Linked DNA regions of Homo sapiens. The protein of the gene in region 1 purifies or fractionates together with the protein of each later gene. This does not show direct contact. Each region holds a gene or a part of one and is shown on either strand. Other genes may lie near its edges. The genes, in order: ANGPTL8 and CHRDL2.

The links.
Region 2: the proteins of ANGPTL8 (region 1) and CHRDL2 purify together in Homo sapiens (affinity purification with mass spectrometry; one large-scale study listed by BioGRID and IntAct). This does not show direct contact.

The regions. Positions count from the first base shown.
Region 1 is NC_000019.10:11,238,119-11,241,718, forward strand, and holds the start of ANGPTL8 (angiopoietin-like protein 8 precursor), read left to right. Parts: upstream 1-1,500; 5' UTR 1,501-1,519; coding exon 1,520-1,816; intron 1,817-2,016; coding exon 2,017-2,178; intron 2,179-3,326; coding exon 3,327-3,436; intron 3,437-3,541; coding exon 3,542-3,569; 3' UTR 3,570-3,600. Other genes in the region: DOCK6 (dedicator of cytokinesis protein 6), read right to left, coding at 69-186. UniProt on the Homo sapiens protein: Hormone that acts as a blood lipid regulator by regulating serum triglyceride levels. May be involved in the metabolic transition between fasting and refeeding: required to direct fatty acids to adipose tissue for storage in the fed state.
Region 2 is NC_000011.10:74,721,111-74,725,131, reverse strand, and holds part of CHRDL2 (chordin-like protein 2 isoform 2 precursor), read left to right. Parts: intron 1-4,021. UniProt on the Homo sapiens protein: May inhibit BMPs activity by blocking their interaction with their receptors. Has a negative regulator effect on the cartilage formation/regeneration from immature mesenchymal cells, by preventing or reducing the rate of matrix accumulation.

The DNA.
Region 1 (3,600 bases):
GGAGAGTGGATTCATGAGGGACCCATGGGGGATGCCCTACCCCCCTTCCCTGGGGCACAGCCACTGACCGGCAGAGCCTGGCTGGGGTCCTCGCCTGTCATGTACTGCACTCGCACAGCAAGGTTGCGCACGGAGCCCTGGCGGCTGCTGAAGTTGAGGCTGTGCGGGTACACGTACAGCAGGTTCCTGTGGGGGGCAGGATGGGGGTGTCAGAGGGACAGGGGCCCTGAAGGTGCACATACAAGGCTGGGGTGATGGGACAAGGCTGGCTGGGAGCACAGACAGTCCAGGAAGAGTAGGTCATGAGGCTGGGGCATTGAGGGCCCGGTGAGAGGTAATACAGGTATCAGTCAGGAGATAGGACAGAGGGCAGAGGGTGGGGGACAAGCGAGCACCCTAAAAACACAGATTGGGAACAGTGTGGTAGAGGGTGGGAATACAGAAGGACATTGGAGGCACTCATGGGGCACAGTGACACACAGAAGGCAGAGAATAGCGAGGCACTCAGGGCCAGAGTTCCAAGGTACCTCAGGTGGCCAGTGGTCAAGCCTAAGCCCCACCCAAGGGCCTGACTGCCCTTCCCCCAGGAGGTCACTAGAGTTATGTGGCCTGTTTCTCAGGTGGGGAAACTGAGGCCAGAGTCCGAGTCCTGCCTCCTTCCCCCAGGGGCAACTCTGTGCAAGCCTTGACCCCTCTCTGGGCCTCAGTTTCCCTATGTGTATAATGGGCACTTCAGGCCTTCCAGCTGAGCCTTTGTAATGATACTGATGATGATAAATAACAACAATGACAATAATTGCACCAAACACTATTACTACAACAATGAAATAATCGCGCCTACTGTGTGCCAGGCTCTGTTCTAAGCACTCAACATGAAATAACTCATTTACTTCTCACAAGTAGCTCATGAGGCAGGACTAACATCACCGCCATTTTACAAGCAGGGAAACTGAGGTACTTGCACAATCACCCACGGAGTAAAATGGCAGTCAGTGGTGATCTGGGCATATGCAGGTCTTGGAGATCAGGCTGTGTGACCTTGGGAGAGTCTCTGCCACCTGCACCTGCCCCCTTGGATACTAACCAGGCCAATAAAAGCCCCCACGTGGCAAGTATGTGGGAGGGGAACAAGAGCAGATATTGTAATGGCAGGTCAAACAGCTCAGGGCAAACCATCAATGCTTATAAAATCTTTACTGTTATTACCATCATCATTGCGATGCCTATTCATAGATGGAGAAACAGGCTCAGCATGGTGAGTCTCAGGAACTCCCAGCAGGGTCTGGGGCCCGTCCTCTCCCAATGCCCCCCACCCACACCTGGCCCTGAGCCCCAGGAAGCGTGATCCCGGCGTGGCCTAGCCGGACATTCGCCTGATGCAACTATCGCACCACTGCCAGGCCCTTGTGCAATGCGGGGCACCAGGTCGGCCAGTTAACGATTGACTGGGGATCAGTGGGGGTATGAGGCATAAAAGGCTTCAGTGACAGTGCTGTGGCTATACCTTAGACCCTCAGTCATGCCAGTGCCTGCTCTGTGCCTGCTCTGGGCCCTGGCAATGGTGACCCGGCCTGCCTCAGCGGCCCCCATGGGCGGCCCAGAACTGGCACAGCATGAGGAGCTGACCCTGCTCTTCCATGGGACCCTGCAGCTGGGCCAGGCCCTCAACGGTGTGTACAGGACCACGGAGGGACGGCTGACAAAGGCCAGGAACAGCCTGGGTCTCTATGGCCGCACAATAGAACTCCTGGGGCAGGAGGTCAGCCGGGGCCGGGATGCAGCCCAGGAACTTCGGGCAAGCCTGTTGGAGACTCAGGTGGGCACCGTAGCTGCGACACTGTGGGGTGGCCAGGAGTCCAAAGAGGAGTTCGTGTCTAGGGTAACCAACCATCCTGGTTTGCCCAGGACTGAAGGGATTCCTGGGATACAAGATTTTCAGCGATAAACTCAGGCAAGTCCTTAGGTACACAAAGATGAGTTGGACATCCTACTAGTGACCCACTGTTTATTAAGCAGATGGAGGAGGATATTCTGCAGCTGCAGGCAGAGGCCACAGCTGAGGTGCTGGGGGAGGTGGCCCAGGCACAGAAGGTGCTACGGGACAGCGTGCAGCGGCTAGAAGTCCAGCTGAGGAGCGCCTGGCTGGGCCCTGCCTACCGAGAATTTGAGGTCTTAAAGGTAAGGAGCTCCCCCAACCCTAGTGGGCTGAGACCCTGATTTCCGGCCAGAACTCGCTTCTGCACCTTGAGTCCCAAAGACCTCCCAGATCAGCCTCCCAGCTCTGTGGCCTCTACCCTGCATGTCCCCAGACAAAACTCAAGTCCTTTTGTGTGCCTCAGTTTCCCTTTTGTGTGCCTCAGTTGCAAATAAGGGCAACACCTGATATCTCACAGTAGGGCCAGGTACTCAATGCAGGTAAAATATTCAGCATGGGGCGGGCACACAGTTGGTGCTCAATAAATTCTTTTTTTTTTTTTTTTTGAGACAGAGTCTCACTGTTGCCCAGGCTGGAGTGCAGTGGTGTGATCTTGGCTCACTGCAACCTCCACCTCCTAGGTTCAAGTGATTCTCCTGCCTCAGCCTCCTGAGTAGCTGGAATTACAGGTGCACCAGCTAATTTTTGTATTTTTTAGTAGAGATGGGATTTCACCATGTTGGCCAGGCTGGTCTCGAACTCCTGACCTCAAGGGATCTGCCTGCCTCGGTTTCCCAAAGTGCTGGGATTACAGGTGTGAGCCACTACACCTGGCCAATAAATTCTTACTACTAGAGAAACTGGTAACATTTTGTGAGCACCCAGTAAGTACCCAGCACTGTTCTATGCCCTTTAATAATCCATATGATGGCCGGGCATGGTGGCTCATGCCTGTAATCCCAGCACTTTGGGTAGCTAAGGTGGGTGGAACACTTAAGGTCAGGAGTTCGAGACCACCCTGGCCAACATGGTGAAACCCCGTCTCTACTAAAAATACAAAAAATTAGCTGGGCGTGGTGGCACATGCCTGTAGTCCCAGCTACTCAGGAGGCTTAGGTAGGAGAATCGCTTGAACCTGGGAGGTGGAGGTTGCAGTGAGCTGAGATCGTGTCATTGCACTCAGCCTGGGTGACAGAGAGAGACTCAAAAAAAAAAAAAAATCCATAGGATGTTCATCACCTCCCCATGAAGTGAGTCCTATTTTATCCCCATTTTACAGATGGGGAAACTGAGGCCAAAGAGCATTGTTGACTTGCTGGGTCACACAGATACAATGAGGGGCTGGGGCAGAGGGTCAGGGGATGGGAGGTGAGGTGGCTGTCGGCTGAGGTTTCCATTCTGACCCCCACAGGCTCACGCTGACAAGCAGAGCCACATCCTATGGGCCCTCACAGGCCACGTGCAGCGGCAGAGGCGGGAGATGGTGGCACAGCAGCATCGGCTGCGACAGATCCAGGAGAGGTGAGCCTGGCAGGGGTTTGGCAGGCAGGGCAGTTGGATGGGGGGCGCACAGGGCAGCTGGAAAGGGGCCCCCTCACCTGGGCTGAGCCACATCTCCCTCCCCAGACTCCACACAGCGGCGCTCCCAGCCTGAATCTGCCTGGATGGAACTGAGGACCAATCAT
Region 2 (4,021 bases), on another chromosome or scaffold:
AGTCCCAGCTACTCGGAGGCTGAGGCAGGAGAATCGCTTGAACCTGGGAGGCGGAGGTTGCAGTGAGCAGAGATTGCGCCACTGCACCACAGCCTGGTGACAGAGCAAGATTCCATCTCAAAAAAAAAAAAAGAATGAAAGAAGCTTCCAGGACTAAGGACCGTCAATTGGCTCCTCTTCCAGAATCTCTCCCTCTTTGTTAACTCTGTTCTTTCATCATTGATTTCGTTCATCAGGCACGAACTCTATGTAGGCTCTACCTTGAGCACAAAATTTAATGAGATCTGGTCCTTGCTCTCAAGAAGGTCCCAGTTTGGTTAGGAAGCAAAGCTTACTTAAGAAGTACCTCTAATCCATTTGTGATGAGAATTGTAATGAGGGCTGAACTCAGTTCTGCAGGAAAGGCCAGTGGCTGGAAGTTTGGGGCAGCTTCACAGAAAGGGTAGCATCTAAGCTGGCTTTTGAAGAATGGGAAGGAGTTGGTCAAACATTGGAGATGGAGGATTCCATTCCAGGTGGAGGAAACAGCATGTTTGAAGGCACAGTAGGAGGAGGCCTGGGGGCTGGTGGAAGAGTGAGGAATTTAGCAAGAGGAGGTGAGGCTGAAAACAGGGCCACCACAAAAAGTTTTGCTGGAAAAGCAGGCAGGAGCCACCTCATGATAGGCTGGGGATGACACAGTGACATTTGGAATCTGTCTGGTAAACATTGCTGTCCTGAAATCAGATTAGATCAACTAAGTCCAGTCACTTTAAGTCTGTTCAGACAGGTAAAGAGATTTGGCTGTGGCCCATCCAAGTGGACACTTCCTGTGGGAAAGGGAGCTAGTGTCTAGCACTTTGGATATGCCAAAGAGAAGCCTCTGTGTCCTTCATGAACCACATCCACTCCCACCTCTGTGCCTTTGCATCTAGCACCCACTGCCTGAGAAGTCCTTCCCCTTCTGCATCTTGTTAATTTCTCCAAGATCCAGCTCAGGCATGTTCCTAGAGAAGCCTCGCCTGAAGACCCTATGCTCACGCCATCATAGCGTTTGTCAGACTGAATGTATTGTATCTATCTGTGTTCTTCACTAGGCTGTGAGCTCCTTCAGGAGGTGACTTTGTTTTAAGTCATGTACCAGGCCCATGAATGTGTATAATATTTGACATACAAAAAGTTCAATAAATAAATGAATAATGGGAAGTAATATTACTGTAGCAGTCCCCCAGTATTCATGGTTTCAATTTCTGAGGTCTCAGTTTCCTGTGATTAACCTTGGTCCAAAATGTTAAATTGGAAATTCCAGAAATAAAGAATTCATACGTTTTAAATTGCACATCATTCTGAGTGGCATGGTGAATTCTGTTGCCATCCCTCTCTGTCCCATCCAGAATGTAAATCACCCCTTTGTCCAGTGTGCCCACGCTGTAGATGCTCCCCGCCCGTTAATCACTTGGTAGCTGTCTCAGTGATCAGATCAACTGTTGCAGTATTGCAAGGCTTGTGTTCAAGGAACCCTTATTTTACTTCATAATGGCACCAAAGCACGAGTAGCAGTGCCAGCAATTTGGATATGCCAAAGAGAAGCCATAAAGTGCTTTCTTTAAGTAAAAAGGTAAAAGTTCTCAATTAATAAGGAAAGGAAAAAAATGGTATAGTGAGTTTGCTAAGATCTACAGTAAGGATGAATCTTCTATTTGTGAAATTGTAAAGAAGGCAAAAGAAATCTATGCATGGTCTATGTAGGGTTCAGTACAAACTGTGGTTTCAGGCATCCACTGGGGGTCTTGGAATGTATCACCCAAGGATGAGGGGGGACTACTGTATTACTAATGATAATAATGTTTACTGCCTGTTATGCCAAGTGCCGCACACTCACGTATGTGTTCAGTCCCGAAACCTCAATCCTGACCTTGATGGCTCCTTTGCCTTCTCCACCCATATCCTATCCAGTCTGTCCCAAAGCCTGCCCATTGTACCTCCTAAGTGTTTCTCAAATCTGTACTTTTGCCCATCAGCACAGCTTCCATCTTGGTCCAGGTCCAGCATGATCTCAAAACAGGATGACTGCAACAGCCCCTCCCTGGTCTCCCTGCCTCCAGTCTTGCCCTCCAATCAGTTCTCCATTCCTGTGAGCACAGTGATGATTCTAAAATGCAAATCTGATCATGGAACTCCCCAGTTTAAAGCTTTTCCATGGCTTTCCTTTGCCTCTCAGGCTCTCAAAGACCTCCGTGAGCCTCTGCTTCTCCTTCCAGACTGGTCTCTTGCCTCTCACTCCTGCCTTCCCATTCTCTCCTCCAACTTCTGAGCCACTTTCATCTCTGTATCCCCGCCCAAGGTCTGTGGGCCTGAGGTGAGTTGAGGCAAACTAATCTGATTTATGAGTGGGGCTAGAAGAATGCAGGAGGCCACCAGAATCATGATTGGTGCAGTAGTAAATGAGACCTGGGAGATTTGGCCTCAGTGTGTGCTATGATGTTCATCCCCTAATAGGTGCCTGGGGATGACCACAGAGAGCTCTGGGAGTCAAAGAAACACCACAGGAAACAAACTATTAAGGAAGTCTGGGGTCAGTGCCCAGATCTGTTTTTTTTTAAACCTATTTAGTTGAGCATATAATATATGTCAGGCACTAGGCATATTACATATATTATCTGACCTAATTCTACAGTAACTCTGAGAGGTAAAGATTGTTATTAGTTCCATTTAATAGATGTGGAAACAGAGGCCCAGAATGGTTAGGTAACTTGTCTAAATTCAGGCTGCAAATAAAAGCCAAATCCACAATTTGAACCCCAGCCGATCTGACTCCAAAGGGTCCCTGAGAAAAGTCATGCTTGGTCTCTGAGATGGGGAGGGATGCATGGGCACAGGTGGGATGAGACTTGGTGGTGGGGTGGGAGAGGAATCAGGGCAGGTCCAAGGCCAGGGCAGAGGTGGGAACGCCACAGAGGACCAAAGGGAGTGTATGGGAAGGGAGTGAGGTATGAGACAAACTCTACCTCCTTCACACTCAGGTGACACACCTGTGTCACTCAGGACTGGTCCTACTGGCTCCCTGAACTTCATCCTAACCCACTTTGGAGCCTCTGAGAGCCTAAGATGTATGAGACCATCAACACATCCAAGAATCATAGAATCTTGGAATGATCGAATCTTAGAACCACAACATTGGACAATTCTAGAAGCTTTGTGTTCTAAGGAAAGACAGGTTCTTAGAAACATGGAATTCTCAAAATCCTGAACCTTAGAATCCTAGAATTTTGGAGTCTTCAAATGTTGAAATCATGGATTCATAAAGTATCTATGCAGAAAATCTTTGAAGATCATAGCTTACCCCCTCCCCTTATTTTGCAGATGGGAAACTGAGGCTCAGAGAAAGGAGGATGAGTCTCTGAATGTCACACAGTGAACTTGTGGCTTAAAGAACTAAAACTGTTTTCACCAGCCATGTTCAAGGGTTGGGGCTAGTGCCAGCACTGCAGGAACTGAGGCGGCCTGTCGCCGTCTGGCAGTTCTTCCTCCTGCTTGGTTCTGGCATGGCCTTGGGCACTCATCTCACTTGAGGAAGAGAGAGCTCCAGGCCATGCCACCCTTCCTTGTGCCTGTCACCTTCTAGGGTATGGTGGGGTGGGGATTGTGGCCACTGGAGGCCTCCTGCCAGGCCCCCCACATTCTCAGCCTCTGCCAGGTCTGTTGGTGGGGGGAAGGGGCCTCCTGCCTGGGCATTGGCTGAGACACTCTTTCTGTCTTCATGCTCTGAGCAGGCGGTGAGGTGAAGGGGGTGCCAACTGGCACAGAGACCTGGGCTACAGGGCTGCCCCAAGGAAGGGAGGACAGGGCTTCTTCAGCAACAGGCTGAGACCTAAGGTGGTGGCAGTGTTGCAATCACCCCCTCCCTGGTGGGAGGAGGGGACTGAGGAAGAAAGACATTATTCACTCCTTGGAGAGTTGGGCTGGCTCTGACCAGCACCCCAGCTGGGCCCGTGTCCCACCCTCTCTGCCAGTAGAGGCTGAGAGATAAACACAGCTCATT